4 linked regions of the Homo sapiens genome follow. The protein of the gene in region 3 interacts with the protein of the main gene of each other region in a biochemical or structural test. Each region holds a gene or a part of one and is shown on either strand. Other genes may lie near its edges.

Region 1 (7,022 bases), on a different chromosome or scaffold from region 3:
ATCAAATGTAACTGACATGGTGCAAAACAACACTATAGAGTGTTACCAACATAATCATGTCAATCATGATCAAAGGATAAAGACATGCATGGGAATTGAAACACCCAATGTGGGATAATGGTTTTCTCTGGGTGGGAGTGAGGGGATGACACTGGAGAGAGGAACGACCGGGGACTTCCACTGTAGTGTTAATGTCTGACTTCTTACGTCAAGTAGTGAGTACACAGGCGAGTTTTATTACCTGTTAAATCCTTTTGTGTATCCTAAATATTTTATAATAAGATGTGAGTATAAAGAGTAGCTGAGAGGAAAAAATATAATGGTAAAAAGGGAAAGGCCTTACTATTTACTGGTTGGCCCACCTGATTAGCTGTATCTCTTTCCACCAACAGGTCCTAAAATCCTAAGGGCACTTGGCTTAATGAATCATCCAGCTCAACATTCTCACTTTGTCTAGGAATTGCCACCTCCCTTGGATAAGCATAATTAGCTTACTCCTACCCTCAATGGCCAGGTTCTGATACATACCCCTCCTGGGATGGGGTAATAGAGAGAGGCTCCCCACCACTGCCCAAGAATCAGACATCAGATATACTGCATCAGTGGAGTGTAACGAAAGAGGTGGCACAGAATAGCTTGGACATACACAAGGCAGGGCCACAGCCCCAAAGATTGAGTCCACGGGTCCTGGGAACCTGAGCTTCTACCTTGCGAAAATGCTTCCTAGGTAGTTCTGAAGCATACCTCTTCTTGAGAACCCCTGTCATGAATCATTGTCTTTATCCTTATCTTCCCAGCCAGAATATTTAAGAGCGTTGCATTCTACAGTTTATATCACAAAATATTTTTTAAATTTCCAATTATAAAATGACATAATAATATTGAATGAATAAACTTTTGAAAATGACATCATTCTCCCTGATCCTGAAGATTCTGCTGTTCCCCCTCAGGGGGGATATGCCCCACTCCATCCACCCCGGAAAAAGCTTAGTCCATCCCTCTGTCTCTCAGAAGATTTAGCAGGAAGAGGTCATATGTGTTTGGGGAGATCCAATATTCTCAGAAATATACCTCCATGTTTCCAGACTATTCTATTGCCCCAGAGTTGGAGGGGGTACTTACTGGAGGAACAGACAGCCCAGGTGGCAGGGAATGGCAACTGTCAACAGCAAAGAACCCACTAGCATCACTCTTTTTTTTGATACGGAGTTTTACTGTTATTGCCCAGGCTGGAGTGCAGTGGCACAATCTCGGCTCACTGCAACCTCCGCCTCCTGGGTTCAAGTGATTCTTCTGCCTCAGCCTCCCAAGTTGCTGGGATTACAGGCATGCGCCACCACGCCTGGCTAATTTTTTGTATTTAGTAGAGACAGGGTTTTACCATGTTGGTCAGGCTGGTCTCAAACTCCTGACCTCAGGTGATCCACCCACCCTGACCTCCCAAAGTGCTGGGATTACAGGCGTGAGCCACCGCACCTGGCTGCATCACTCATTTTTAATGAAACTCTTCACACAGCCTCCATCTCCGTTTCTGGGCTGATGTCTAAGAAAGTTCACACCGAGAGTCACGCACAGGGCTGAGGGTCAAACTCAGGCTGAGGCTCTGTGTCCCAAACGGCATGGGAGAAAGTATCCCTTCCCACCTCTCCCCTTTAGATGGAATCAGTGTTCTGCCCCAAAGGGGCCTAGAATCATCCATCTGCTTTCCCATTTGACAAGTGAGGATGTGGAGTTTTAGAAGGAGGACACACTATACCCCAGCTGTCCCTGCAGGTTCCTCTCAAAGCTAGGATGAGAACTTACATCTTTCAACTCCCCAAGTGGTTATTTTTTAAACTAAGAGTGAATCTAAAAAGCTTCTTTTTTTTATTTGCTCCAAAACTTTCAAAGAACATTGCTTTCATCACCAAATCTTCAAATCATGTGCCAGAATTGTAAAAAGGCTTAAAGGCTGGTTTCACTTCCTGTGTGGAGGCAGCCTGCCGTTAATTGGAACAAGTGAAAAACTGGCCTCCAGGCACACACAACACTTGGGAAGTCCATGAATATTTATCACCGCACTGAGAATTCCCTAAGCGGCACAGTGACAGAAAACAACTTTCAGTTAAGTTTGAGTCTCTGTTCTAATATTCTCCACTAAGACAGCCTGTTCTTACTTGTGAAAGTGATCATTTTCAAAACCATAATGAAGCCAATCTACTATTGGTAGCTCTAACCACAAGGCCCTAAGGCTTAAAATAACAAAACAATTCCTTCTCCAAAATAAACAAGGCTTTTCTTTGTGTATCTAATGAGAGGCAAGACCACAGCTAAGGCAAGTTCTAAGATGTTTACTGTCCCTGAATGCTGAGGTATCTAGATCCTCAAAGAAAAAGCAGATTACACAAAAAAGGGGACCTGTCAGAAAGCATTTGCATAAGTGCCAACCTGAGATCTAAATCCGGAGGATGGACCCCTACTGGAGTGACCTAGGGCAGAGCACTAACCCTGTGATGATTGGATCTTGTTTTCAAGGGACCAACAGAAATACATGGAGGCACAGAGTACAAGGAGAAACATACAAGTGTAAAATGTGCTGGCAAAAAAATCCAGGCATTGAGCTTCTGAAATGAAATGGGGTTTCTCTAAGCACAAATATAAATGTTCTTAGCTTTTGGTGTAATTTTATTCCAAACATAAAGCCAACATCTGTTCTCTCTTTCTCTTTCCTTCTGCCCCTTCTCCCTGCCTGCCACCTCCAAGACTCATGGAAAATCCATTTACCATTGAGTGAAAGAAGCACTGATAATTGAAGAACTAGCCAAGAAGGATGAAATAAAATGCTTTAGAATTGAGTGTAGGTTTCTGGCTGGGCACGGTGGCTCACGCCTATAATCCCAGCACTTTGGGAGGCTGAGGTGGGCCAATCACCTGAGGCCAGGAGTTCGAGACCAGCCAGGCCAACATTGTGAAACGTTGTCTCTACTAAAAAATACAAAAATTAGCTGGGTGTGGTAATGGGTGCCTGTAATCCCAGCTACTCGGGAGGCTGAGACAGGAGAACCGCTTGAACCCAGGAGGTTGAACCCTGGGTTCAATCGCTTGAACCCAGGAGGCTGCAGTAAGCTGAGATCGCGCCACTGCACTCCAGCCTGGGTGACAGAGTGAGCCTCCATGTCAAAAAAAAAAAAAAAAAAAAAAAGAACAGTGTAGGTTTCTCAATGAAATGTTTGAGACATAATCACCCTTTCTTCTTTATCACTCTGAAACACCAGGACCTGAGGAGGTGACCTGGCCATAGCAGCCCAGGGTTTCACATGCCGGCCATGTCCCTAGATCCTAGTGCCTGTCAGAGGCCCCGAGAGTGAAAATGTGGCAGCTCCCATGAAGGGATGGCTGTCCAGCTGCAGAGTCTCACAAAACTAGGGAAGATCTAGGCCCTCCCTTCCTGTGGCTAAGAATCACCCAGTTCAACAGCCATGGTTCAGACAGAGAAAAGTAAGGCCTAGGAGGGAGGAAGTGCCAGGATGGCAGGTATTCTTAGTATCCTTGTTCTCCAAAAGGGGCCTGCTGATCCTAATGGAATTCTCTGCCCCTGCCAGGCTGCATTTTTAGCACTTCGGCTGGAGGCAGGAGTGGGAGACATAGAATGAAAAGAGAGGGAACTGGTTTAACTCCGGTCACGGGTTAGCCAATGCCCAGAGTGCCAGAGGGAGAGTAATCAGGGCTCCCTCCCGGGCACCTGAGGGTTGGCTCACCCATGCCATTAAGCAGGAAGTACCAGAAGCCAGGAGTGCACCTGGCGCCCTTTGCATTTCCTACAAGACCACCTGCGGACACATACTCACGCCTGTACACGGAATCTACTCTAAGAACCAAAGCCTCATTTTCTCTATGTTGCAGCCAACTGACCTCATTGGGAAAACCTAGCTCGATGTGGTAAAAAGGAAAAGAATTTTCTGAGCTGGGTGAGGTGGTTCACTCCTGTAATCCCAGCACTTTGAGAGGCCGAGGTGGGTGGATCGCGAGGTCAGGAGTTCAAGACCAGCCTGCCCAACACGGTGAAACCCCGTCTCTACTTAAAATACAAAAATTAGCCAGGTCTGGTGGAGGGCACCTGTAATCCCAGCTACTTGGGAGGCTGAGGCAGAGAATTGCTTGAAGCCAGGAGGCGGAGGTTGCAGTGAGCCGAGATCGCGCCACATGCACTCCAGCCTGGGCGACAGAGCAAGATTCCATCTCAAAAAAAAAAAAAAGAATTTTCTGGATGTTCACACTCAAAAACCCTAAAACAAAACAAACACAAAAAATAAAAATAAAAAAATTTAAACCACACCCAGTTTGGAAAAGAGTTATGTGGGAAAAGTTGAACAGGAACTGGACTTCATTTTTATACCTTCCTGAGAGGCACATGACAAGAAGCTATTCCTGTACTATGTCAAGTTTGAACTCCATAAGGGAAGGTATGGGGGCAGGAGTAGGAGGGGAATGGCAGTCAGGGCGGGCCCTGCTTCTCTGGAGAACTGCTTGGTCCTGGGTGGGTTTTGCTCAAACTACTAGGAAACAAAAACCTAAAGAGCTGCAGCAAAGGACTTGGGCACTCTAGGGCGACACCGGAGGGCCCCTTCACCAAAGCATTCTGAACAATGGAGGGTGGACCATTCAGGATACACTTCAATAAGAAAAGAACCCTCCTCCCAACACCTTTTGTCTAGGAAAAACATTTCCCCCATACTTGAGTTCAGAAGAATGGAGGAGAACCATTGGTAATAATGGCAAATATATTTTAAGCACATATCACCTGCCATTAGCTCATTACGTCCTCCTAACAATTCTATGAAAAGAGCCTCCCACTGTACCCAAAAAGGAACAGAGGTCCTGAAAGTTAATCACCACCCCCAAAGCCCCAGAAGCCAGTCCCGGTTAACACTTTCATTCCAGTCCCCAGAGGCATAGTGTGCCTCACACAGTGTGAGACCCCTTTCAGTTTTTATAATAATTAATCTCCTGCTGAGAAACATACCAATTCAGAGCCATGTGCTTTGGGTTAAGATTAAACTAACGGCAAGGGCCAAAGTCAAGGCACCCAGGGCTACCTGCCCCTGAGCAAGGAGTTGTTAGAACTGTGTTTAACATGAAAAATTACCTTCTGACATTTTTTTTTCTAGTTGGAATAGTTAGGACAATGTAAAATATGTTTGGGGTTAATACAGCCCAAAAATCTGTCTGGTTTTAATTGACTAGCTCCTCCAGCAATGAAATCACATTGGCATCACAGCAAAATAAAAGATTGTTTTCTATTAACCAAGCCCCGAATGTGAGGGCATGGGAGCTCCAGCAATTCTGTTTCTGGAAAAGCCAGTAGGAAAAGATAAGGGTGAAGAGCACCTGGTAAGACATGCAGGGGCTTGGTTCCTTCATGCTGTGCTCTGATACTCACTGAGCACCCGTATGAGCTCCATGCTGTGTTAGCAGTGAAAAAGACAGCAGCCCTGCCACCAGGAGCTTACCTTGTGGTGGGGGGACAGTGGAGGAAAAGGAGTAAACAAAGAGGTAAGGCTGGGTGCCATAGCTCACGCCTGTAATCTCTGCACTTTGGGAGGCTGAGGTAGGCGGATCACCTGAGGTCAGGAGTTCGAGACCAGCCTGGCCAACATGGTGAAACCCTGTCTCTACTAAAAATACAAAAATTAGCCAGCTGTGGTGGCAGGTGCCTGTAATCCCAGCTACTGGGAAGGCTGAGGCAGGAGAATTGCTTGAACCTGGGAGGCGGAGGTTGCAGTGAGCAGAGAATTTGCCATTGCAAGACTCTGTCAATAAAGAAATAGAGGGAGGGAGGGAGGGAGGAAGGAAGGAAGGAAGGAAGGAACTGATCAGGTTGTGAGAAGCATTATCAGGAAATTAAATTTAAGGGATAGTGGGGTGTATGCATATGATACTTTGGCAGGGGGTGGTTATTGGGGAAGGCTTCTCAAGGAGAACCTCTGAACTGAAACCCAAAGGATGAGAAGAAGCCAGCATGCCGAGATCTTGGGAAAAAGGTTCCAGCCAGAGGGAAGAGTCACTGCAAAGGCTGCTCAGGCCCTAGAAAGAAGACACAGGTGGCTGGAGTGGTAGGAACAAGAGGGAAGTGAATGGAAATGGGTCAAAGAGGTTCGCTGTGAGTCTCTGCAAATTCTAGTAGGGAACAGGAAGCCACTGGAAGATTTTCAAATGGAAAATACAATCAGATTCGTTTCCAAAATCTCATTCTGGCTATTATATGGAAAGCGACTGTTTCACATGTGTGTTCAAGGTCCCAGCTCAGTTTTTCTACCCAGCAGCATGTTCCCAATTCACAGGCATAAAAAGATTGAACCTCTTCTTGACCAATGCTGACTAGTAACTCACTGGCCCTTCTACAATTATCTGGAAATTATTTCAAAAATTAAGATTTAAAAATATAATTATTGGCTGGGTGTGGTGGCTCATGCCTGTAATCCCAGCACTTTGGGAGGCCAAGGCAGGCAGATCACCTGAGGTTGGGAGTTCGAGACCAACCTAACCAACACGGAGAAACCCTGTCTCTACCAAAAATACAAAATTAGCCAGGCGTGGTGGTGCATGCCTGTAATCCCAGCTACTCAGGAGGCTGAGGCAGGAGAACTGCTTGAACCCGGGAGGCGGGAAGTTGCGGTGAGCCGAGATTGTGCCATTGCACTCTAGCCTGGACAGCAAGAGTGAAACTCTATCTCAAAAACAAAAAAACATAATTATTGTTAATTTTTTAAAAATTGTATTCAGCTGTGCATGGTGGCTCATGCCTATAATCCCCACACTCTGAGAGGCTAAGGTGGGAAGATCGCTTGAGCCCAGGAGTTCAAGACCAGCCTGGGCAACATAGTGAGATCCTGTCTCTACAAAAAATAAAAAATTAGCCAGGCATGGTGGTATGTGCCTGTGGTCATAGCTACTTGGGAGGCTGAGGTGGGAGGATCACTTGAGCCCGGAAGGTTGAGGTTGCAGTGAGCCGTGATGGTGCCACTGCACTCTAGCCTGGGTGG
Region 2 (7,022 bases), on a different chromosome or scaffold from region 3:
TCTACCTATCTTATTTCTCTCCGTATGCCTTTTTCTGTCTCTTTCTGTCTCTTGGTGTGTGTGTCTTTCTGTCTCTCTTTGTATGTGTCTCTCTCTCTGTCTCTCTGCTTCTCTCTCCCTCCATTCACCCCGGCCTCTCTCTGAATAGAATTCTTTGTCCTGGGTTTCCTCTGAGCTGTTCCATGGCTCGAGTGCGTGTGGGCCTGGTGCCCCTTTGTCAGCCCTTGACCCAAGCAGGGCACCGGAATCAACCGTGCCCTCCTCTCCTCCGCCTCCCTCCACAACCGGCCCACCTCCTGCCCTAACAAGCCTGCTGGCCTCAGTCAAAGGGAGGATGTCCAGCCCGGTCCCCACTGGGGAGATGGAACCCAAAGAAGAGAGAGCAGGAAGAAAGTAGGAGACAGAGGCTGGGCGTGGTGGCTCACGCCTGTAATCCCAGCACTTTGGGAGGCTGAGGCGGGCGGATCACGAGGTCAGGAGATCAAGACCATCCTGGCTAACACGGTGAAACCCCATCTCTACTAAAAATACAAAAAATTAGCCGGGCGTGGTGGCGGGCGCCTGTAGTCCCAGCTACTCGGGAGGCTGAGGCAGGAGAATGGCAGGAACCCGAGAGGCGGAGCTTGCAGTGAGCCGAGATTGCGCCACTGCACTCCAGCCTGGGCGACAGGGCGAGACTCCATCTCAAAAGAAAAAAAAAAAAAAAGAAAGTGGGAGACAGAGAGAGATAGAATGACATACACTGGAAGGGACAGGCCACAGTGACCCAAGATGAACATAGACAGGACAGAGAGGCCGGGCATGGTGGCTCACGCCTGTAATCCCAGCACTTTGGGAGGCTGAGGCAGGTGGATCACTTGAGGCTGGGAGTTCGAGACCAGCCTGGCCAACATGACAAAACTCCATCTTTACCAAAAATACAAAAATTAGCCAGGCGTGGTGACGGGCATCTGTAGTCCCAGCTACTTGGGAGGCTGAGGCAGGAGAATCGCTTGAACCCGGGAGATGGAGGTTGCAGTGAGCCGAGATCACACCACTGCACTCCAGCCTGGGTGACAGAGCAAGACTCTGTCTCAAAACGAAAAACAAAACAAAATGAAAGACAGGACAGGGAAGTTGGAGTGACAGAAACCCTCTCCTTCTTGGGGACCATTCCCTTCTGCACCATGCAGACGAGGAAGGACCGAGCTCAGGGTTATGCAGTGGTCAGGGGCATCACTGGGGGACCCTGGATTCAGGGGGTTCTCCCTACTGAAGGAGGAAAGACAGAGGAGCAGATGGCAGAGGCTCTGTAAAGGAAGGAGGCTGCAGCCTGGAGGGCATCAGCTTCCCGCACTCCCAACCTGCTGCCTCTCTCTGCTGGAATGAGGAGGGGCCTTCTGACTGGGGGTCTCCAGGGTGGAGGGAGGAGCTCACATTCTCAGCATTCCTGGGACCCTGAGTTGCAAGGAAGACCTGGTGAGCATGCTGACCCCAGAGGAGTGACTCAGGCCCATGGCTCGAGTGGCTGAGTAGGGACCAGGGTTGGGGATCGGGCATGAGTCAGCCTGGCAGGTCCCATGAGAAGGGGAGGGGAGGGAGAGAAATGGGGGCTGCACAGGTGTGAGGATCTGTGCATGTCTGTGTGGTGGTGGTGGGGTGTCTGGATATCTGTGTGTTCTGGATCTGAGTGTTAGTGTATCCGTCAGCACAACCTCTGTGTGAGGGTGTGCCTTGGCGAGGGTGGACTTCTGTGGATGTCCCATGTGTGGTGTGTGTGTGTGTGTGTGTGACTAAATATATTTCCTTCAGCTTGGATTCTGTCCCAATATGTGTTTGGATCTTTATAGCATGTCTCTCTCTCTACGTTTCTTAGGGGTTGCCCGTGTGTGGGTGTCTGTGTGTGTGCGCATGATGGAGTGTACCAGTGTCAGCCTGTGTCTGTCCCTCTTTTTTGTGTTTGTGTGTTCACAGCTGGGACTCACTGTATGAAAGTAAAGTGTGCCTGGAGGGTAGTGGGTTTGGGGCTATGGTGCACACCTCTCTGTATGGAGGTGGTAGTGTCAGCCCACAGGTGTGCAGCTATGGGTGTGAGAGTGTCCTAGTGAGAGCTTGTGTTCCCTTGCAGAATCAGAACGTGTCCATGGATAACTTGTGTTTCTTACCACCTTTTTTCCCCCTTATTTTTTTTCAAGATAAGCTCCCGCTGTGTAACCCAGGCTGGAGTGCAGTACTGTGATCATGGCTCACTGTAGCCTCCACCTCCTGGGCTCAAGCAATCCTCCTACCTCAGCACCCTCCCACCCCTCAAGCAGCTGGGACTATAGGCATGTGCCACCATACCCAGATAGTTTTTGAATTTTTTGGTAGAGACAGAGTCTCGCCATGTTGCCCAGGCTGCTCTTGAACTCCTGGCCTCAAGTGATCCTCCCGCCTCGGCCTCCCAAAGTGTTGGGATTTACAGGCGTGAGCCACTGCTCTCAACCCTCAGCCTCTTACCAGCTTTCTGTGTGTGTCCATAGATGTCTCTGTGGCGTGTGTGTATATGTCACAGGGTAAGCATGTTGGTGTATGACTGTAGTCACAGACCTGTGTGTGTGTGTGTGTGTGTAACAGCACCCTCTGCTTCTCTCTGGTCTCCCTGTGTGTGCACTGGCCCCTGCTGCCTCTGAGTACATGACCTAAGGATGCTTACCAGTCAGCGTATAGATGTGTCTCTGTGTCAATCTATGTGTCCATGGCAGTGTCTCCATCCTTGTGTGTCTGCATCAGGCCTGCGCATCTACGAAACTGTGTTTTTTTGTTTTTTGGGGTTTTTGTTTTGAGACGGAGTCTCACTCTGTCACCCAAGCTGGAGTGCAGTGGCACGATCTTGGCTTACTGTAACTTCCGCCTCCGGGGTTCAAGGGATTCTCCTGCCTCAGCCTCCTGAGGAGCTGCGATTACAGGCACGCCTGGCTTATTTTTGTATTTTTAGTAAAGACAGGGTTTCATGACAGGTTTGTCATGTTGGCCAGGCTGGTCTCAAACTCCTGACCTCAAGTGATCCACCGGCCTCGGCCTCCCAAAGTACTGGGATTACAGGCGTGAGCCACCGCACCCAGCGCAAATGTGTTTTTGTATCAGTCTGTGTCTGGGTGAACATGAAACCTGGGCGCATCCAGCTCCATCTTATGGCGTAGATGGAGGCTTGGCTGTGAGGTGTACGCGTCGGTGTGTCTGTGTCTGAGCAGGTCAAAATGACCCTTCATTGTGTCCTGGTGTGTATCTATCTGTCCACCTCAACTCCATGTACGCTGTTACGTGGTGTGTGTCTCTGAATATACAGGGACATTTAAGTTTCTGTGTGTGTTGGCATCAGCCTAGATGTACATTGCGTCGCTAGGTGTTTGTAATCAATGTGTACATGTGTGACTGTGTGTTTATGTGTTTGTCCCACGTTGGCTTGTATGCATACATGTCTCTTTATGAATGTACATCAGTGTCAGCCCGCGTGTATATGTGTGAGTCACGGTGTTTTTGTGTCACTGTGTTTGTGACATCAGCCCTTGCATATCTGTGTGCCGTTAACTTACCAAGCGCTGCGTCTTCTGTGCTAATAACAGCCCCTGTGTGTTTAAGTGTGATTCATTGTGAGTGTGTGTGTGGGGGGGTTTGCTGTGTGAAGGAATTTCGTCCGTTTGTGTGCGTCTGTCCCTCTATCTGACTCAGGGCGTGCCCCTCCTCCTTCCATCCCTCTCATTCTCTGGAAAAGCTGGGGCGGAGAGCAGGGGTTGTGGGGGGATGGTCAGGACATCTGGAAAGCACATCTGGAATCGGCCTGCTCCTGTCGTCTTGCGGTAAAGCAAGAACCTTCTGGAGGGGAAGGGGTCCCAGTTCCTCCTGTCCCCTTCACTCAAGGTGCGGCCGTTGGGGCCTGGGAAGGGGGATCCCGGCTCTGGCTCCGCGCCCCCGAAGCCGGCCGGAAGCGCTGGGGTGGGGAGGTGCCCCCGGTGACTCACGCGGGGGCAGGAATGCTGCGGTCGGAACGGGACCCGGCTCCAGAACCCACCTCCAGCCCCAGGGCTTCTCCGGCCGGCGGCGCCAGCTCCCGCGCGCTGACCCTGGCGGGGCCCCACGTGCCAGGTGGCTGGACCCGACCCAGGCTCCCCGCCCCCACTCGGGCCGCCCGCCCGGGACTGTACTGTTTCTCCTCCGGGCGGCGCGGGGGCTGCGGGCGCGGGGCCTTCAGGGCGCGGAGGCTGCGGGAGCGGGCACCTGACCTTGTCTGGGAACGGCCACCTAGGAAGCCGCGACTGAGGAGCTCCCCTACCCTCCCCTTTCCGGCCTCTGCAGACTTTGCACCATTCCACTCCCTCCGCTGACGGAGAAAAGGAAACTTTGTGTCTGCGGATGGAGAGCCTCCCTTGCCAACGCGGTGGGAACAGAGGCGTACACGCACGGAGCAAACACGAGAGACACGTACACAGATACTCAACACATGCACGTACACACCATCCACAGATACACGCAGGGTCACAAACATACCAGCTCAGAAACACAAACACAGATGCACAAGCACACGCGTAAACAACACGCAGAACTGCAGTCGCACTTACAAGACTTGGTCCCAGGGCCGGGCACCGAGTGGCTCTGCCTGCGATCCAGCACTTTGGGAGGCCGAGGCGGGAGGATCGCTTGGGGCCAGAAGTTTGAGAGCAGCCTGGGCAACGTGGTGAGACTCTCCTCTTCTCTACAAAAAAAAATTGAAAAGTTAGCCAAGTGTGGTGGCCGCCTGTAGTCCCAGCTGCTTGGGAGGATGAGACAGGAGGATCGCTTGAGCCCTGGAGGTCAAGGCAGCAGTGAGCCGTGATTGTGCCACTGTACTGCAGCCTGGGAGATAGAGCAAGAACCTGTCTCAAAAAACAAAACGAAAAACTTGGTCCTTCTTACATCCTAGCGCAGACATTGTGTGTGTGTGCTGGGGGAGGGGGGTGTCTATGTTTCTACGTGTATCTGTGTTGGGGGATTCCCCTTATTCACCAGGATACGTTCTCTAAGAGCCCCCACAAAAGCCTGAAACAATGAATAATACTAAACCCTGTATATACTACACATAACTTTCTTTTTCCTTCACAATTTCGCAGATAGATTGTTTTCTTACTATAGATCTTAGCAACCTCAGTACATATATATATGATTATCTTTTTCTAAGTGGAGAATTTTCACCTTTTCACTTAAAAGGAAGCACTTTAAGGCTTCTCTTTGGCCTATCCGAATTGCAGCCATCACTATTTTGCACCCTGGGGCCTTTTTTTTTTTTTTTTAGACAGAGTCTCTCTCTGTCGCCCAGGCTGGAGTGCAGTGTGGCGACCTTGGCTCACTGCAACCTCCGCAGCCCGGGTTCTAGCAGTTATCGTGCCTCAGCCTCCCGAGTAGCTGGGATTACAGGCACGCGCCACCATGCCCGGCTGATTTTTTTGTATTTTTAGTAGAGACGGGGGTTTCACTGTGTTGCCCAGGCTTGTCTTAAACTCCTAATCTCAAGTGATCCACCCGCCTCGGCCTCCCAAAGTGCTGGGATTACAGATGTGAGCCATAGCACCCGGCCAGGCGATTATTTAGATAAATAAGAGTTTCTTGAACTCTGCACTTGAGCACTGCAGTACCAGGACAGTTGATCTGATAGCTAAGTGACTTACAGACAGGTATCAGATACAGCACTGAGATGCTGGACAAAGGGGGGATTCACGTTCTAGGCCAACCAGAGTGGGATGGCATGAGGTTTCATCACAGTACTCAGAACGGCATGCAATTTAAAACTTAGGAGTTATATCTGGAATTTTCCATTGAAATATTTTTAGACCAAGTGTAACTGAAACCTCAAAAAGTGAAACCTCGGATAAAGGGGGACTGATGTACGTTGTATAGCGGTTTGTGTTGGGTATCTCTGTGTGCTTGCAGGTCTGTGTCTCTCGTGTTTGTCTCTGTAATTGTACGTGCTTCTGTGTGTGCACGCTGGTCATACCAACACCAACACCACCACGTTAGGGAGGGAAGGCAATCCACCTTCACTCGAAAACAGTTACTCAAGGCCGGGCACGGTGGCTCACACCTGTGATCCCAGCACTTTGGGAGGCTGAGATGGGCAGATCACTTGAGGTCAGGAGTTCGAGACCAGCCTGGCCAACATGGTGAAACCCTATCTCTACTAAAAATTACAAAAATTAGCCGGGCATGGTGGCGCGCTCCTGTAATCCCAGCTACTCAGAAGGCTGAGGCAGGAGAATGGCTTGAACCCAGGAGGCAGAGGTTGCAGTGAGCCAAGATCATGCCACTGCACTTTAGCCTGGGCAACAGAGCAAGACTCTCAAAAAACAAAAGAAAAAAACAGTCAAGACACAATACGTGAACTCCCCTATGGAATTACACATGCTCATATTTCTACACCTATGCCCAGGAATGCTCATAAGTACATAGCTGAACACAATTTCACTCACTCATTCAACAAGCATTTATGGCACACCTATTGTGTGCCAGGCCATCCTGACACAGCAGGGGACGAAACAGACACAACCCCTGCCCTCCTAGAGCTGACATTCTAGTGGGAGAAACTGACAATGGGCAAGGTACTTGGGTAACAGGTAAAGTATGTTGGGTGATGAGAAGAACCAAAGAGGAAAAGTAAAGCGGGAAGGGGATAGATTTGGAGAGGAAGCTCCAATTAGCTCCAATTTTATTGTATTTTTTCTTTCTTTCTTTGTCTTTTCTTTTCTTTCTTTTTTTTTTGAGACAGAGTTTCACTCTTGTTGCCCAGGCTGGAGTGCAATGGCGTGATCTCAGCTCACTGCAGCCTCTGCCTCCCGGGTTCAAGCTATTCTCCTGCCTCAGCCTCCTGAGTAGCTGGGATTAAAGGGGCCTGCCACTATGCCCAGCTAATTTTTTGTATTTTTAGTAGAGACGAGGTTTCACTATGTTGGCCAGGCTGGTCTCGAACTTCGGACCTCAGGTGATCCACCCACCTCGGCCTCCTAAGGCTGGGATTACGGGCATGAACCACCGTG
Region 3 (7,890 bases):
AGACAGTGTGGTATTAACTTTAAAAAGAGACAAACAAATAAATGGGACAGAACAGAGTCTACAAATAGATTTGCACATATATTATCAATTGGTTATTGACAAAGGTGCAAAGGCAAGTCAGTGGAGAAAGAATAGTCTTTTTAACAGTGCTGGGATGATTGCATTTCCCTAGGCACATACGTACAGATACACACTTTGTTTCATACTTCAGCATTTATAAAAACTCATTCAAAATGGATCACCATCTTAAATGTAAAACTGAAATCTACAGAACTTCTGTAATAAAATCTTTGTGACCTTGAGTTAGGCAAATGTGACACCAAAAGCAGAATCCATTAAAGAAAATAAGCTGCACTTCAAAATTAAGAATTCTGATCTTTGAAAGACACTTTAATTTCTTTTTATCTTGGAGACAGAGTCTTGCTCTATTGTGCAGACCAGGCTTAAACTCCTGGGCTCAAGAAATCCTCCTGCCTCAGCCTCTCAAGTAGCTGAAGCTACAGGCACCCACTACCATGCCTGGCTAAAGACACATTTAATAGAATGAAAAGACAAGCCGCAGACTGGAAATAAATATTTGCAAACCACACATCTGATAATGGACTTGCTTCTAGAATAGTTATAGAACTCTTAAAACTCAACAAACAGCTCAACAATTGGAAAACCAAACATCCCAAGTGTATTAGTCAATTTTCACGCTGCCGATAAAGACATACCTGAGACTGGGCAGTTTACAAAGGAAAGAGGTTTAACTGGACTCACAGTTCCACGTGGCTGGGGAAGCCTCACAATCATGGCAGAAGGTAAGGAGGAGCAAGTCACGTCTTACACAGATGGCAGAAAGCAAAGACAGAGAGCTTGTGCAGGGGAATTCCTCTTTTTAAAACCATCAGATCTTGTAAGACTTATTCACTATCATGACAACAGCATGGGAAAGACTTGCCCCCATGATTCAATTACCTCTCACCAGGTCCTTCCCATAACATGTGGGAAGTCAAGATGAGATTTCGGTGGGGACACAGCCAAACCATATCACCAAGTAAAGGAAAAGAAAGAAAGTAAAACTGAAACAGACATTTCACCAAAGAAGATATCTGGATGGCAATAAGTACAATAAAATTTGTTCAACATCACTAGTTATTTGAAAAATGCAAATTTAAACTACAATGAAATACCATTATATACATATTAGAGTGAGTAAAATTTTTTTTTTCAGTGGAGTGTAGGGTTTCTTTTTTTATTTTTATTTTTTTATTGATCATTCTTGGGTGTTTCTCGCAGAGGGGGATTTGGCAGGGTCACAGGACAATAGTGGAGGGAAGGTCAGCAGATAAACAAGTGAACAAAGGTCTCTGGTTTTCCTAGGCAGAGGACCCTGCGGCCTTCCGCAGTGTTTGTGTCCCTGGATACTTGAGATTAGGGAGTGGTGATGACTCTTAACAAGCATGCTGCCTTCAAGCATCTGTTTAACAAAGCACATCTTGCACCGCCCTTAATCCATTTAACCCTGAGTGGACACAGCACATGTTTCAGAGAGCACAGGGTTGGGGGTAAGGTCACAGATCAACAGGATCCCAAGGCAGAAGAATTTTTCTTAGTACAGAACAAAATGAAAAGTCTCCCATGTCTACCTCTTTCTACACAGACACGGCAACCATCCGATTTCTCAATCTTTTCCCCACCTTTCCCCCCTTTCTATTCCCCAAAACCGCCATTGTCATCATGGCCCGTTCTCAATGAGCTGTTGGGTACACCTCCCAGACGGGGTGGTGGTCGGGCAGAGGGCCTCCTCACTTCCCAGTAGGGGCGGCCGGGCAGAGGTGCCCCTCACCTCCCGGACGGGGCGGCTGGCCGGGCGGGGGGCTGACCCCCCCACCTCCCTCCCGGACGGGGCGGCTAAAAATTTTTAAAGTGACCACAGAAAGTATGGGTGGGGATGTGGAGCAACTGGGACCCTCATGCATTGATGGTGAAAATGAAAAACAGTATAACCACTTTGAAAAACAGTTTAAAAAGTTAAACAAATACCTACTATGGGATCCAGACACTCTGCTCCTAGATATTTCCCCAAGAGAAATGGAAGCACGTGTGCACACAATGTCCACACGATGGACACACACATGAATGCCTACAGCAGCTTTATTTGTGATAGTAAAAATTTAGAAGCAAGTATAATGTCCCTCAACAGGTGAATGATAAACAAATTGTGTTATATCCATACAGTGGAATACTACTGAGCAATAAAAAGGAATACACCTGCAACAAGATAGATGATTCTGAAAATAAATATGTTAAGTGAAAAAAACAGACAAAAAAGTGTACATACAGTATAATTCTTTTTATATAAAAGTCTAGAAAATACAAACAAATCTATAGTGATAGAAAGTTGGTCAGCGGTTTTTGCATAGAAACTGGGATGTGGGGTAGGGTGGGGACATTTAGGAGGGAGGAATTACCAAAGGGCATGAGAACACTTTTTTGGGTGATGGATATGTTCCCTAACTTGATTGTGATGATGGCTTCACAGGTGTACACAGCTTTCCACCTCATGGCCACAGACCGGTTAACCATCCATATAAAACATCCATTGCCCTGGGTCCAACCTCCTGCCCCCTGTGGAGGTGAACTGTCTACTTCACCATTGATATTTCAGGTTGTATGATATAGTGCCTGACAACTCTCCATTTTTGGAACACATCCAAATTGTTTCTTATTCATTTTCCATTTCTGCCTTCGAACGAATTTCCTGCACTGGTAACTAGGTGAAGAATTTTGGAGTTATCTGGGGTAATGGAGACATCCTCCATTGCACCGCATATTTGCTTTCTGTATTCCCCAGTTATAGAAATCAAAACGAGCAGTTGTATGTGAATGCATTGTATCAAACCAAGTCTCTAGATGATAGGAGGCATTGTCATTACTAGGATAGTAACTCAGTAGAAAGAGTGAATTGAGAATATGAGGAATGAGAGTGGGGTCCAGACTAAAAGGAGGCCAGGGGTCCTGAACTGCCCCATCCAACTGAGTTCATTCTGATACCTACTGATCTGAAGCAGCAGGTCCACGCCCAGGTGCAGATTGTCCCAGATGAACAGGCAGAGGCTAGAGATGCTCATTCCTAAAGGGATCAAATAATTCTGAGAATGGCAAGAACTCCATTAACTCTCTTCTCCAAAACTACAAAAATGTGCAGAAAATACGAACAATTTTTAGGAGCTTACACTCTTTGAAGTTTATCCATGGGCTGCTGGAACCCTTAGGAAATAATAGCTAGAAGTGCCTCAGACACTGCCTGGCACACAGCAGGTGCTCAATGAATTACACTGCCTGGCACATAGTAGGTGCTCAATGAATTGTCTGATGAAGTGATTAAGGAGCCTTGTAAATACTGATTAAAACATGTATCACCCCATCCAATTTTTCAAACCAGTGCTTCTCAAGAACAAGCAGGAAAATTAATGTAATATTGTTTTGAAGTAGCCGTGGTGGTTTCGGGGCAGAAGCCCAGGGGTACTCCTTACTCCGCCTGCTCCAGTAACTAGCTGACATGGAAGTGCCTCGTCATTCTGGTTCAGACACAGGTGCAGATAGATGACTTCTCTATCCCACTTTAATTCTCCTTGAAGATCATTCCCAGGGACATTCATTTGCTTAAATTAACATGCTCGGCCAGGCGCGGTGGCTCACACCTGTAATCCCAGCACTTTGGGAGGCCCAGGCGGGCGGATCACGAGGTCAGGAGATTGAGATCATCCTGGCTAACACGGTGAAACCCCGTCTCTACTAAAAATAAAAAAAATCAGCCGGGCGTGGTGGCGGGCGCCTGTGGTCCCAGCTACTCGGGAGGCTGAGGCAGGAGAATGGCGTGAACCCGGGAGGCGGAGCTTGCAGTGAGCAGAGATCACGCCACTGCACCCCAGCCTGGGCAACATAGCGAGACTCCGTCTGAAAACAAACAAACAACAACAACAAAAATTCATGCTCATAATCCCACTTTCAAACCAGTGACCTCAAAGATTTCTAGCAGCAATCCTATTCCATTCTTCCAATTACAGAAAGCAAAGAGAAACTGGATCTGGGGATCTAAGCGTTGAGCCTGCTGAGCAGAACGGCCATTCATTTGGGGTGAGGTGCTGACTCACTGCCCCTCTACATTGCATTTTGGGGTGTGGGGATTTCCAGAGCAGGATTCTCCAGAGAGGAGTATCCAAGCTCCCTCCTCCCGCAGCAGGGGGATGCTGGGCTAACTGCCTGGTTCGGTCCCCCGTGAGTGGTCTGCTGTGTTTTGGTTCTGTTTGTTTGTGTGTGTTTTGCCTATGACTTTGCGAAATATTCCAAGACAAGAGCCAGAAAGTCTTGGTCTCTGAAGACAAGCACAATGTTGCTTTCAGCTTAAATATCTACTGGGAAACCTCAAGATTTTTAATGTCATCATTATGAAAAACAGAGATTATAAAAGGAAACCGTCGCATTTCACTCGCTGGCCCCCAGTGGGATTGGATCTGACCTCAGTGTATCTTTTCTTTGGTAGGTTTTAAGTCTTGACAAAATGTGCCTAAGAATGAAGACTCCAAAAAGGATGCAGTAGATTCGGGGGGAGTGGGGGTTGGAAAGAGGCTTAAATCTTCACATGACACCTGGAATATGGTCAAAATGTACCTGCTCAAGTTGAACCAGGTATTGCGTCCTCCTTTTACCCCATCGCTAGTGAAGACAACCACCGCCTGGGGAGACGCTCCTTTTCCGAAACACTCGAGTCCCGCCGCGTCCCGGACGCTCCGCTTTCCCCGCGCCCGGATCCTCCCGGGAACCCGCGCCCCGCCCGCGCGCTGGTCCCGCCCCCGCCGCCTCCCCGCGCGCAGCCGCCCGAACACGCCCAGACCGAGCGCTTGAGGTGCCGCAGCCGCCGCCGCCGCCGCCGCCGCGATGTGACCTTCAGGGCCGCCAGGACGGGATGACCGGAGCCTCCGCCCCGCGGCGCCCGCGGCTCGCCTCGGCCTCCCGGGCGCTCTGACCGCGCGTCCCCGGCCCGCCATGGCCCCTTCGCTCTCGCCCGGGCCCGCCGCCCTGCGCCGCGCGCCGCAGCTGCTGCTGCTGCTGCTGGCCGCGGAGTGCGCGCTTGGTGAGTCCCGCGGGCCCGAGACCCCGTCCCCGGGCGGCGGGAGGAGGCTCCGGGCGCGGCTTGACGCGTCCCCCTCTCTCCCTCCGGGCAGCCGCGCTGTTGCCGGCGCGCGAGGCCACGCAGTTCCTGCGGCCCAGGCAGCGCCGCGCCTTTCAGGTCTTCGAGGAGGCCAAGCAGGGCCACCTGGAGAGGGAGTGCGTGGAGGAGCTGTGCAGCCGCGAGGAGGCGCGGGAGGTGTTCGAGAACGACCCCGAGACGGTGAGCAGCCGGCGGGCGGGATGCGGGGGAACCCCTGGCGCCCGCGCGCCTCCAACCGCTCCCGAGAGGCAGCGCTGCTGCCGCCCCCCAGCTCCGCGCGGCGAGGCCTGGCCTCAGGGTCCCAGGAGCCCCGGCCCGCCCCGCGTCCCCCACGCCCATCCCCCGGCGACCCCGGGATCCCCGCGCAGGCCGGTGAGACGCTGCGGGGCTGTCCGGGAAACGCTCGCTGTCAGACGCCTCCCCGCGGGGAAGCCGGGAGTCCGTTTCCAAAGTGCGAGAGAAACACAATGGTTAAAACCCAAACCGCTTCCCCGCGGCCCTCCCTCTGCTGGGCTGGAGGTGAGGAACCCCCGGGCCGCGCCTCGTCCTCCTGAGAGGGGTGGAGAGCAGTCCCCTCCCGAAAGAGGAATTGAAAGGGCCGAGGGCGGGAACTGCTTGCGGCAGCAGGTCCAAAAATAAGATTCCAGGAATCGAGCGGGGCCGCATGCGGGAGGGGAGGGCGGCTCCGCGGCCCCGTTCTGCCAGGTGCTCTCCTGGAGGCAGCGGGTGCTTTCAGGAGCCCGACGGTGCTGGCCCCGGCACCTCGGTTAGGAATGTCCTTGGAGAAGGCGGGGCGCCCGGGGCCGCCTCCCGCAGGAGCCGCCGTGTGAGGACGGCCTGGCCACTCTATCCTGCGGGCTCGGGAGCGGGTGACTTTGGAAAGTCCGAGAAGGTGTGGATTCCCGTTGACGTCCCTCCCGCCCTGAAGTCAGGGTGATTTCATAGCGAAGTTTTCCGTTCTGCTGGAATGTTCCTTTTAAAGAATTCTCCTGGGGTGGAATAAATGTCACCCGGGATGAAAGAGTGGTTCTGGATGAACCATGGAGGCCTGTTTCCGCTTACATTTCTAGTGGTTGACTTGACCCCTCTTAGATCTGCCTTTCTGAAAGCTCTGAGGCTGTCAGATGGCCACTGTGCACTTGTGGACATAGCTCATCCCTGCAGAGATGACGCACCTGGGGCTGTTGCCCGGGGGCTGCCCACAGCCCCACAGGCCCGTGCCCTCCTTCAGCTCAGCCTAGCTTGGTCGCTCTCCCCGGCCTCTCTGTTTTCCTGTTTCTTTAATGATGAATCCTGGCCTGTGCTGCTGGCTGAGGCAGGTGGGCCTGTGTGCCCTGGTCGCTCGGAGTCGCCGCCCAGCTGTGGGGTTGGTCGTGTGGCTGGTGCAGTGTCCTCCAACAGCGTCCTCACCCGGAACATTCTGCGTGCACAGGGACTGTGGCATGGGGCGTGCTGGTGATGGGAGTTGAGGGCAGCAGGGTCACCCCCACCCCACAGTACCCGCTCCGCGCAGCCCTGCAAGGCCTGGCCGCAGCCCCTCCTCGCTGTCCTCCAGGACCTGCAGGGCCCATGTCAATCAGACTGGACGCTGCCTGGATGTACTGTGCTGTTCTTCCCAAGTCAGTCCCCTACCTGGTTTTCCAATTTTAATTTAATAACTTTATTTACAAAGGTGTGAAATGAAGATAAGAAAATGAAAACAGCACTCAGGACCCCATCACTTTAATACAACTGCGGTTGCGTCACATGGTTTCTGTGCTGGCATGTTCATCTCCTCACCCTCCTGCATGTGGCTGAGTGGCTTTGGTGCCCGGGAGGCATCCCTCCCATCCTCTCACAGCCTGGCCCCAGCAGCCTCTGTCGGCTTCTTTTCAGCGTCATCTCAGTTCCCAGCGTTCTGCCCTCCTTCCCAGCCCCCATGCCAAATGATAACAACCCGCTTTCCCTCTGGTTTTTGGATCTGGCCATTAGCTTGCTGTCTGTTTCTGTTTCTGTTTCCGGTTCCTGCCGGCAGGTGGATGCTGGGGACAGCCTGGTTGGGGCAGGGGCAGGGGCAGGGTCCAGAGGCTGGCTTGAGTCCCAGCCGGCTCCAGCACACCAGGCCCACCCCTCCCAGGACCCTAGTCTCCACTGCATCCTCTGCCACACTCTTGGGAGACCCCAGGCCCGAGGGGACTGTCCAAGCACAACTTCCTGCTAATGCATGAAAATCATCCATGAACTTCTCCCTGTCAAAGGCCAGGGGCTCCTTGTCTTTGAAATGTTGCTCACTTTACATTTTGTGCAGTGCGGCTGATTGAGGAAAAGGGCTGTGGCCTGAGCTCAAGAGGTGACCAGGACCTGGCCATGGTGACTGTCAGAGCATCCTTGGGTCCCTGGCCTCCCCAGGCCCAGGATCCTGATGTGTGGTCCTCCACGGGTGGTTGTAGGGAAGGTGGTCCCAGCCCCCTGCCATTTTAGGATGTGGGAAGTGCCTGGCCGCCGTTAGTTAACACGCACCTACCCAGCCCTGGCTGTTTCCCCTGGGCAGGCTCCTACGAGGGAGGGAAGGGACAGCTGGAGCCAGCTCTCCAGTGTGCTCACCTTCATGTCCACCTGCTAAACTGCTAACCTGCCCGAAGTGTGTCCCACTGCCCCTTGCTGGGGCATCTTCCTGGTTGCGCCTTCTTCCCGGAAGCACCCGCTGTGCA
Region 4 (7,022 bases), on a different chromosome or scaffold from region 3:
GAGCAAAACTCCATTTCAAAAAAAAGAAAAAGTCCTCACTATTCATATATAACTTTTGAGTATCTGGAAAAAGCTTCCAGCTCTCCTGCCAACAGGAATTAATTTTTTTTTTTTTTTTTTTTTGAGATGGAGTTTTGCTCTTGTTGCCCAGGCTGGAGTGCAATGGTGTGATCTCGGGTCACCAGAACCTCTGCCTCCCGGGTTCAAGTGATTCTCCTGCCTCAGCTTCCCAAGTAGCTGGCATTACAGGCATGCGCCACCACGCCCAGCTAATTTTGTATTTTTAATAGAGGCGGGGTTTCTCTATGTTGGTCAGGCTGGTCTGGAACTCCCGACCTCAGGAGATCCGCCTCCCAAAGCGCTGGGATTACGGGCGTGAGCCACCGTCCCCTGCCAGGAATGCTTTTTTACATACAATTTCAGGAACCTTATAAATTCCCTGAAGCCTATCACTCAGGATGCCCAAGGAATGCCTCAGGCTCAGGTGGAAAAATAACAAACCAAAAACCTAATGGAAAGACGCTGAGACCAAGTCCAATGAATGCAAATGCCTGACTCTCTTGCCTATGCCCATGACAAGAGCCCCAAGCACTGCCTCACACACCAGCACACCCCCAGCAGGGGCCACCAGTAATGGCAGTAATCATGCCAGACACTGAACAGGTCGTGGGAATGGGAATGGTCTGGGGCCGTGGGTACATGGCCAGACTGGGACACGTCCTCAAGGCTGTGCTAGGAGCCAACTGGCGCCTGTCCACCAGGCTGCCTGGGTGAGGCCAGTGCCTGCCCACTCTCCATTGACAGCACCAGCTCCAGCTGGGGAGGAGGCTGCGCTGGGGTCTGGTCCCCACTGCCCTTCAGAGCTTCTACAGCGCCAGATTAGAACTGAAGCAGGCTGCAGCCACAGGGAGATGTGAGCTTCCTGCCCCTTGCCATGCCCTGAGCTCTGCTGAATGAACAGGAGGGCCAGGGCCTGGCTTGTCTACTCAAGATTTCCCTCTCAGGTGTAGGTGAGTTACCCACAGCCCAGGCTCAGGGCACTTCAAACCCACTGTCCAAGGGAAGGACCCCACCATCAGGCTGAGCCTTCCTGTGCCTGTCCATGACCTCGGCCCTCTGGAAGTCCAATCCCAGAGCAAGAAATGGAGCAGATTCTTTCTCTGGTCACAGTGGCTCCCACTCCCCCTGGGGCTCATGAAAGGTCCTCTGGGCTGGGCGTGGTGGCTCACACCTGTAATCCCAGCATTTTGGGAGGCCAAGGCAGATGGATCCCTTGAGCCCAGGAGCGCAAGACCAGCTTGACAAATATGGCGGAGCCCTGTCTCTACAAAAATACAAAAATTAGCCGAGTGTGGTGGCACGTGCCTGTAGTCCCAGCTACTTGGAAGGCTGGGGAGGGAGGATCACTTGAGCCCAGGAGGTTGAGGCTGCAGTAAGCAGAGATCACGCCACTGCACTCCAGCCTGGGTGACAAAGCGAGACCCTGTCTCAAAAAACAAAACAAAAAATACTCACAAAAGGTTGTCTGAAGGCCTAGGGAGCCCTTGGCTTGGATGGAGTGGGAGTGTAAGACTAGAACAGACAAATCACAGTTGTTGTCATAAAGAGTTAAGAGTATATATTCTAAAACTACAGGGATCTAGGTTCAAATTCCAACTTATTCACTTACTAGCTCTGTGACGTTGGCCATGTTACTTAATCTCTCTAATCCTATTTTCTCATCTACAAAGTGGGGATAAATAATAGTCTTTTCCTCATAAGGTCAGAGGAAGATTACCTGAAAGAATGCCTAAATGCCCAGCTAATGTCAGTGACACTTCCCATTATCTTGTCACAGGGTCTGTTATCACTGTAGCAAAGTGGGTGGTATCATTGCCTGCCCAGTCCCGAGGGCTTTGGGCTTGCAGAAAGAAGAGGAGGCAGTTCCCTTCTTCCCAGGATCTCAGTTCTTTATCTTAGATTCCCAAGAGAGCTCAGCCTAGGAAGTTTTCTTAGACTAGCTGGGGTCTCCAGGACAAAGGTTGTATTCACTAGGGTAGAACAAATAAAATAAAATAAATACAAATTAAAAAAAGAAAAGGAATGACGGGTGGGAAGATGGCAGGGAAACCTCCCACACTGTTACTCAGCACTGTGCCTTCTGCTCTTGGGGTTCCTGGTTCTCCTTACAAACTGGAGAAAAGAGACTGATAGACAAAGGCTAAAGCAAGAAATCTGGGATGGGAAAGGGGGAAAGAAAGAAAACAGGGAGGTGGTAGATGAACAGTGAGTATGAGGTGGAGTGCAGCCTTCCAACTACAAGGATGTTTCTATCAAAAAACAAAGGTCCAGTTGAGGCAACTGTGGTGGCAGCCATCAGCCAAAACTCCAGATTCCCCTTTCCTTCCAGAGCCCCCTTCCCAGGATACTCACACGTCCTCCATACACTCCGGAGGCTGTTTCAGGCGGTTCCCGCCAATGAGGTAGTTGTAAATCTCAGCGTTTTCGATGCCAGCATATGGCGTCTGCCCACGTGTCATGATCTCCCACATGGTCACCCCGAACGCCCACTGGGACAGAATCGAGGTTGGGGGAGAAGCTGTCACTAGGTGTCCTGAGCCAGGCAGAGAGCCATGGCTCTGAGACAAGCACAACCTGGGGCTCAGGGCCTCATCAGGGGGCAACCAAACCCCAGAGAGCAGACTTGGCTAGGCCCTTAAGGATCCTAAAGGTCTGCTCTCACACTCGTCCCCACCAAGCTTCACGGGCCACCCTGCTCACCACGTCACTCTGCACAGTATACAGGTTGTCGGCCAGGCTCTCCAGGGCCAGCCACTTGACAGGCAGTTTGGAGGCACAGCCTTGACGATAGTAGTCCCCACTGTAGATCTTCCGGGAGAGTCCGAAGTCAGCCACACACACTGTCATGTCCTCTGCCAGCCTACAAGGGGCATTGAGGGAGAGAGTCAGCCTTCTGCCATGCTCACAGGCCCACAAGAGCCAGGACATCTTTGCATCTTTGCTCCCAAGCTACCCCCATGCATAGCAGATACTGTCCCAGGCAGGAGCCGACCATCAGCTAGCTCCTCTTGGCACCTGCTGCTGTCTCCCACCCTCGAGTCCTCCAGAATTCGTACATGCAATTCCGAGCAGCCAGGTCTCGGTGGATGAAGTTCCGAGAGCTCAGGTACTCCATGCCGCAGGCAATGTCCACCATGAACCGGATCAGGGTCTGGAGGGGTAGGTTCTAGTGGACAGACAGGCCAAGCTCAGGCTTAACCTGCCCACCCAGCTGGGGCAGGATGGATGGGGGTCCCTGGCCAGAAAGCCTGAAGGCTGTCCCCAGAATCACTGGAAGGAAGGAAGGGGATGGAGGGCCTTCCCAAGGCAAGGAAGCTTCGGCTAGCCTAAGAGGGAGCCTGGAAGACGAGACTCCCCCACCCTGGGGCTCCACAAGTCCCTCCCTCTAGAAAGGGCCCTTGCCCAGCCTATATTTCTCAGCAGGGTTTTGTGAGAGAAAAGAAAGCCTGCTAGATTAAAAGGATTCAAACTCAGACCCCTCCTACTCCCACCCAGCTCCATCAGCCCTACCCAGCAAGCCCCTCTCTGCCAGGGTCTCTATGCCTTTCCAGGCCCTGTGTTCCCACCCGTTTCCTCCTGGCCACCCCCACACCAGGTACTCACAAAGGGGTTCTCCCCAATCCGGGAGGCGAGCAGGAAGGCATGCAGGTCCCCATGCTTCATGAAGGGCAAGATGACCATGGGGATGGGGAGACGGCCTTTAGCCCTGCTCCGGAGGCTTACCCCTGGGACAAGGGAGAGTCAGGAGCTGAGCATAGAAGGGTCAAGGGGCAGTTCAGGTGTCTGCATAAGTCCCCACCTGCTGGGTCCCATCTCTAGCTCTGGCTCTGCTATTTATTTTTTATTTTTTCACAGGCTCCACACTGGTCTGGGGACTACCCAGGAGGGACTCTGGCTGCTCCCATATCCCTGGAGCATCTTCTGTCCCCTTCCTTTCCTTCTCTGTCCACACAAGCAGTCTTTGTTTTTTCTGAAACAGTATCTTGCTCTGTCATCTAGGCTGGAGTGCAGTGGCGCAATCACAGCTCACTGCAGCCTCAATGTTCTGGGCTCAAATGATCCTCCCACCTCAGCCTCCCGGGTAGCTGGACAAAGGTGCACACCACCACACCTAGCTAATTTTTGTATACGTGTGTGTGTGTGTATGTTTTTTGTTTTGTTTTTTTTTTTTAAATAGAGGTGGGCTGTTGCTATACTGCCCAGGCTAGTCTCAAACCCCTGGCCTCAAGCAATTCTCCCACCTCAGCCTCCCAAAGTGCTGAGGTTATAGGCATGAGCCACCACATCCAGCCACACAGTCTTCATGTGCAGACCTTTGGCACTCCTCACCTCAGATTTCTGCCAGGACCCTCCTTGCTATTTTGCCATCTATTTATTTACCAGATGAGTCCAAAAGTCTCTCCTATAGGCTGCCATCTCATATTGGTAGAGCATATTTTTAGCCCTATTCTCTATCTGCCTCCCCCAAAAATGGGCTCACCAACAAGTTTGGCCACGTGTGGATGGTCAAACTCCTTCATGCAAGCTGCTTCCCTGAGGAACTCTTCAATGTCGCTTGAGGCAATGATGTCAGCTAGGAGAAGGGGATGGGGAAGGAGGAAATAAAACAAGATGTGCCCCTAGTTTTGACCCAGGCCTCCTAGGTCTTGTCCTTCAGATGTCCTAGGCTTCCCAGGGAGCCCAGGAAACAGCCCAGCCATGAGCAGGAGAAACCCCCAAGGAGTGGTGATACTTAGCAACTTCTCCACTTGCTAATGCCTTCCCTTCCCTTTGGTTTGGGCAGCCCAGCAGGTCAACCAACCACAGCTGTAATCACCCAAGAGGGGACTCAGAGGACAGTCACTGCCGATGGCAGAGAGCAATGGCTGGGCATGAATATGTATGTTTGGGTTTATGCTTGTGAATTATTCGTGTGGTAAAGAGCATCCCAGTTAGTGCTGCCCAGCTCTTCTTGGAAAATCTAGGGGCAAAGCAGAGCCTGCTTCAGGGTCAGTCGCCCCTCTTACCCTTCCAAGTGATGCCCTCAGGCTACAGCTATCCCCCACTCACCTTTCAGCATCTTCACAGCCACTTTCACAAAGGAGCCATCCTCTTGCTTCAGCTGGGCCTCCCGCACTGAACCAAACTCTCCTAGGAACCAATCCAAGTAAGGGAGAGTCTCCTTGGCTCTCTGCTCCCTGCCAACCTTCCTCCCAAGTGACCCTCCATGGGAACACAGTCAGCAGACTCTGGGGCCAGTGGAGAAGGCACCCTTGCCAGTAGCCAAAGCAAGAGCATGCTGGGAGCAGCTCCTCAGCCCTCCCTGTCTCCAGCCACCATTCCCCACAAACATCCCACACTCAGGAGTCTACAAGCATATCTTGTTTACGGCAACCGACCCAAACCCACAGCCTCAAAGTGACAGGGGCAACCAAACACTTCCAGCTACAGCAAACCAGCCATGCCCATCCCCACACAGCCTCACATACCTTTGCCCAACATCCGGCCCAGGGTGAACTGCTGCTCTGGGATGAGCACATCCTCCAGTTTTTCCTTTAGTTCATCGCTGATGCCCAAGCTGTCCACTGTGGGGAAAGGGTTTGTGGGAAAGAGGGATCTCTGATTCCTGAGCCAAAACCCAGCCTCTTATACCCCAGACTCTGCCCTCAGAGCATAGAGATGAGCTTAGGTCTCCCACGGCTGGGGTGGTGAACTCCACACAGGCAGATTTGTGTGCCTGGGGCTCACTGATGTTCAGACATATCAGTCAAATTAATAATTTGGTAAAAGAATGCAGATGGGGCACAAGACAGCCCATTTGTCCTTCCCACGATCACCCACCACTCACATGTGGCCTCGATGCGCTCGGGCCTTTCTCGATTGAAGGACCGGGCTGCCCGGAAGTGAACGGCTGGCTCTCCCCGGGCCATGACACTGTCAAAGGCTTGCCTAAAGGAAAACCCAGGATTTGGGGTCAGCTCCAAGGTCTTTCATCATTACCTGCCTCTCCCTCCACATCCCCATCCCCTTACCCAAACCGCGTCTCTTTCCGTCTCTTTCGAAGCAGGATGAGGGCCAGGGCAGCAGCCGTCACCAGGGCCGTTAGCACACCAAGGACCACAGGTACCCAGGATGTGCGGCTGTGAGGAGGGCCCTGCTGGCCTGTGGGAGGGAGGTGCAGTGGCATGAGCTAGGATGACACCATGAGGTCCCTTCAGAACTTTCCCAGGATGGCCATCCAGCTGGTTCAAGGGGCTCCTCTAGGTCAATAAGGGTCCTGAGGGAAAGGGGCTCCAGAGGAATGCCTAAGAGTCCTTCCTACCTGGTCAGAGACAGGCCCTGGCTGTTGTGACCTAGAGGGTGACCATGGATTTCTATGCCAGTTCTGGGGCAGAGAGAGGAGAATGAGATATAGTTTGTTTGAGACACAGTCTTGTTCTGTTGCCCAGGCCAGAGTGCAGGGGCACAGTTGCAGCTCACTGCAGCCTCAACCTCCTGGGCTCAAGCAATCCTTCCACTTCAGCCTCCCAAGTAGCTGGGACTACAGGTGTGCAACATCACACCTGACTAATTTTTAAATTTTTTTGGTAAAGTCTCACTTTGCTGCCCAAGGTGGTCTCAAACTCCTAGACTCAAGCAATCCTTCCACCTCAGCCTCCCAAAGTTGTGGGATTATAGGTGTGAACCACCACTCCTGGCCTTATTTGTTTGTTTCTTTAGAGACAACAGACTCACTCTGTTGCCCAGGCTGGAGTGCAGTGGTGCAATCATAGCTCACTGCAGCCTCAAACACCTGGGCTCAAGCAATCCTCCTGCCTCAGCCTCTGGAGCAGCTGGGCTTAACAGGCATATGTCACTACACCAGGCTAATTGTTTTTTTTTTTTTTTTTTAATTTTTTTGTAGAGACAGAGTCTTGCTATGTTGCCAGAGCTGGTCTCAAACTGCCGGCCTCAAGCGATCCCTCAACCTCCCAAAATGTTGG

Evidence for each region.
Region 1: the proteins of GAS6 (region 3) and MERTK form a complex in vitro, tested with the Homo sapiens proteins (one study listed by BioGRID).
Region 2: the proteins of GAS6 (region 3) and AXL form a complex in vitro, tested with the Homo sapiens proteins (2 studies listed by BioGRID and IntAct, with this or other methods).
Region 4: the proteins of GAS6 (region 3) and TYRO3 form a complex in vitro, tested with the Homo sapiens proteins (2 studies listed by BioGRID).

The regions. Positions count from the first base shown.
Region 1 is NC_000002.12:111,901,593-111,908,614, reverse strand, and holds part of MERTK (tyrosine-protein kinase Mer precursor), read right to left. Parts: intron 1-7,022. UniProt on the Homo sapiens protein: Receptor tyrosine kinase that transduces signals from the extracellular matrix into the cytoplasm by binding to several ligands including LGALS3, TUB, TULP1 or GAS6.
Region 2 is NC_000019.10:41,222,220-41,229,241, forward strand, and holds part of AXL (tyrosine-protein kinase receptor UFO isoform 1 precursor), read left to right. Parts: intron 1-4,535; exon of another isoform or gene 4,536-4,693; intron 4,694-7,022. UniProt on the Homo sapiens protein: Receptor tyrosine kinase that transduces signals from the extracellular matrix into the cytoplasm by binding growth factor GAS6 and which is thus regulating many physiological processes including cell survival, cell proliferation, migration and differentiation.
Region 3 is NC_000013.11:113,861,065-113,868,954, reverse strand, and holds the start of GAS6 (growth arrest-specific protein 6 precursor), read left to right. Parts: upstream 1-4,878; 5' UTR 4,879-5,034; coding exon 5,035-5,122; intron 5,123-5,213; coding exon 5,214-5,380; intron 5,381-7,890. UniProt on the Homo sapiens protein: Ligand for tyrosine-protein kinase receptors AXL, TYRO3 and MER whose signaling is implicated in cell growth and survival, cell adhesion and cell migration.
Region 4 is NC_000015.10:41,569,206-41,576,227, reverse strand, and holds part of TYRO3 (tyrosine-protein kinase receptor TYRO3 isoform 1 precursor), read right to left. Parts: intron 6,202-7,022; coding exon 6,072-6,201; intron 5,989-6,071; coding exon 5,888-5,988; intron 5,625-5,887; coding exon 5,529-5,624; intron 5,191-5,528; coding exon 5,110-5,190; intron 4,634-5,109; coding exon 4,541-4,633; intron 3,786-4,540; coding exon 3,664-3,785; intron 3,227-3,663; coding exon 3,117-3,226; intron 2,921-3,116; coding exon 2,761-2,920; intron 2,550-2,760; coding exon 2,413-2,549; intron 2,031-2,412; coding exon of another isoform or gene 1,997-2,030; exon of another isoform or gene 1-1,996. UniProt on the Homo sapiens protein: Receptor tyrosine kinase that transduces signals from the extracellular matrix into the cytoplasm by binding to several ligands including TULP1 or GAS6. Regulates many physiological processes including cell survival, migration and differentiation.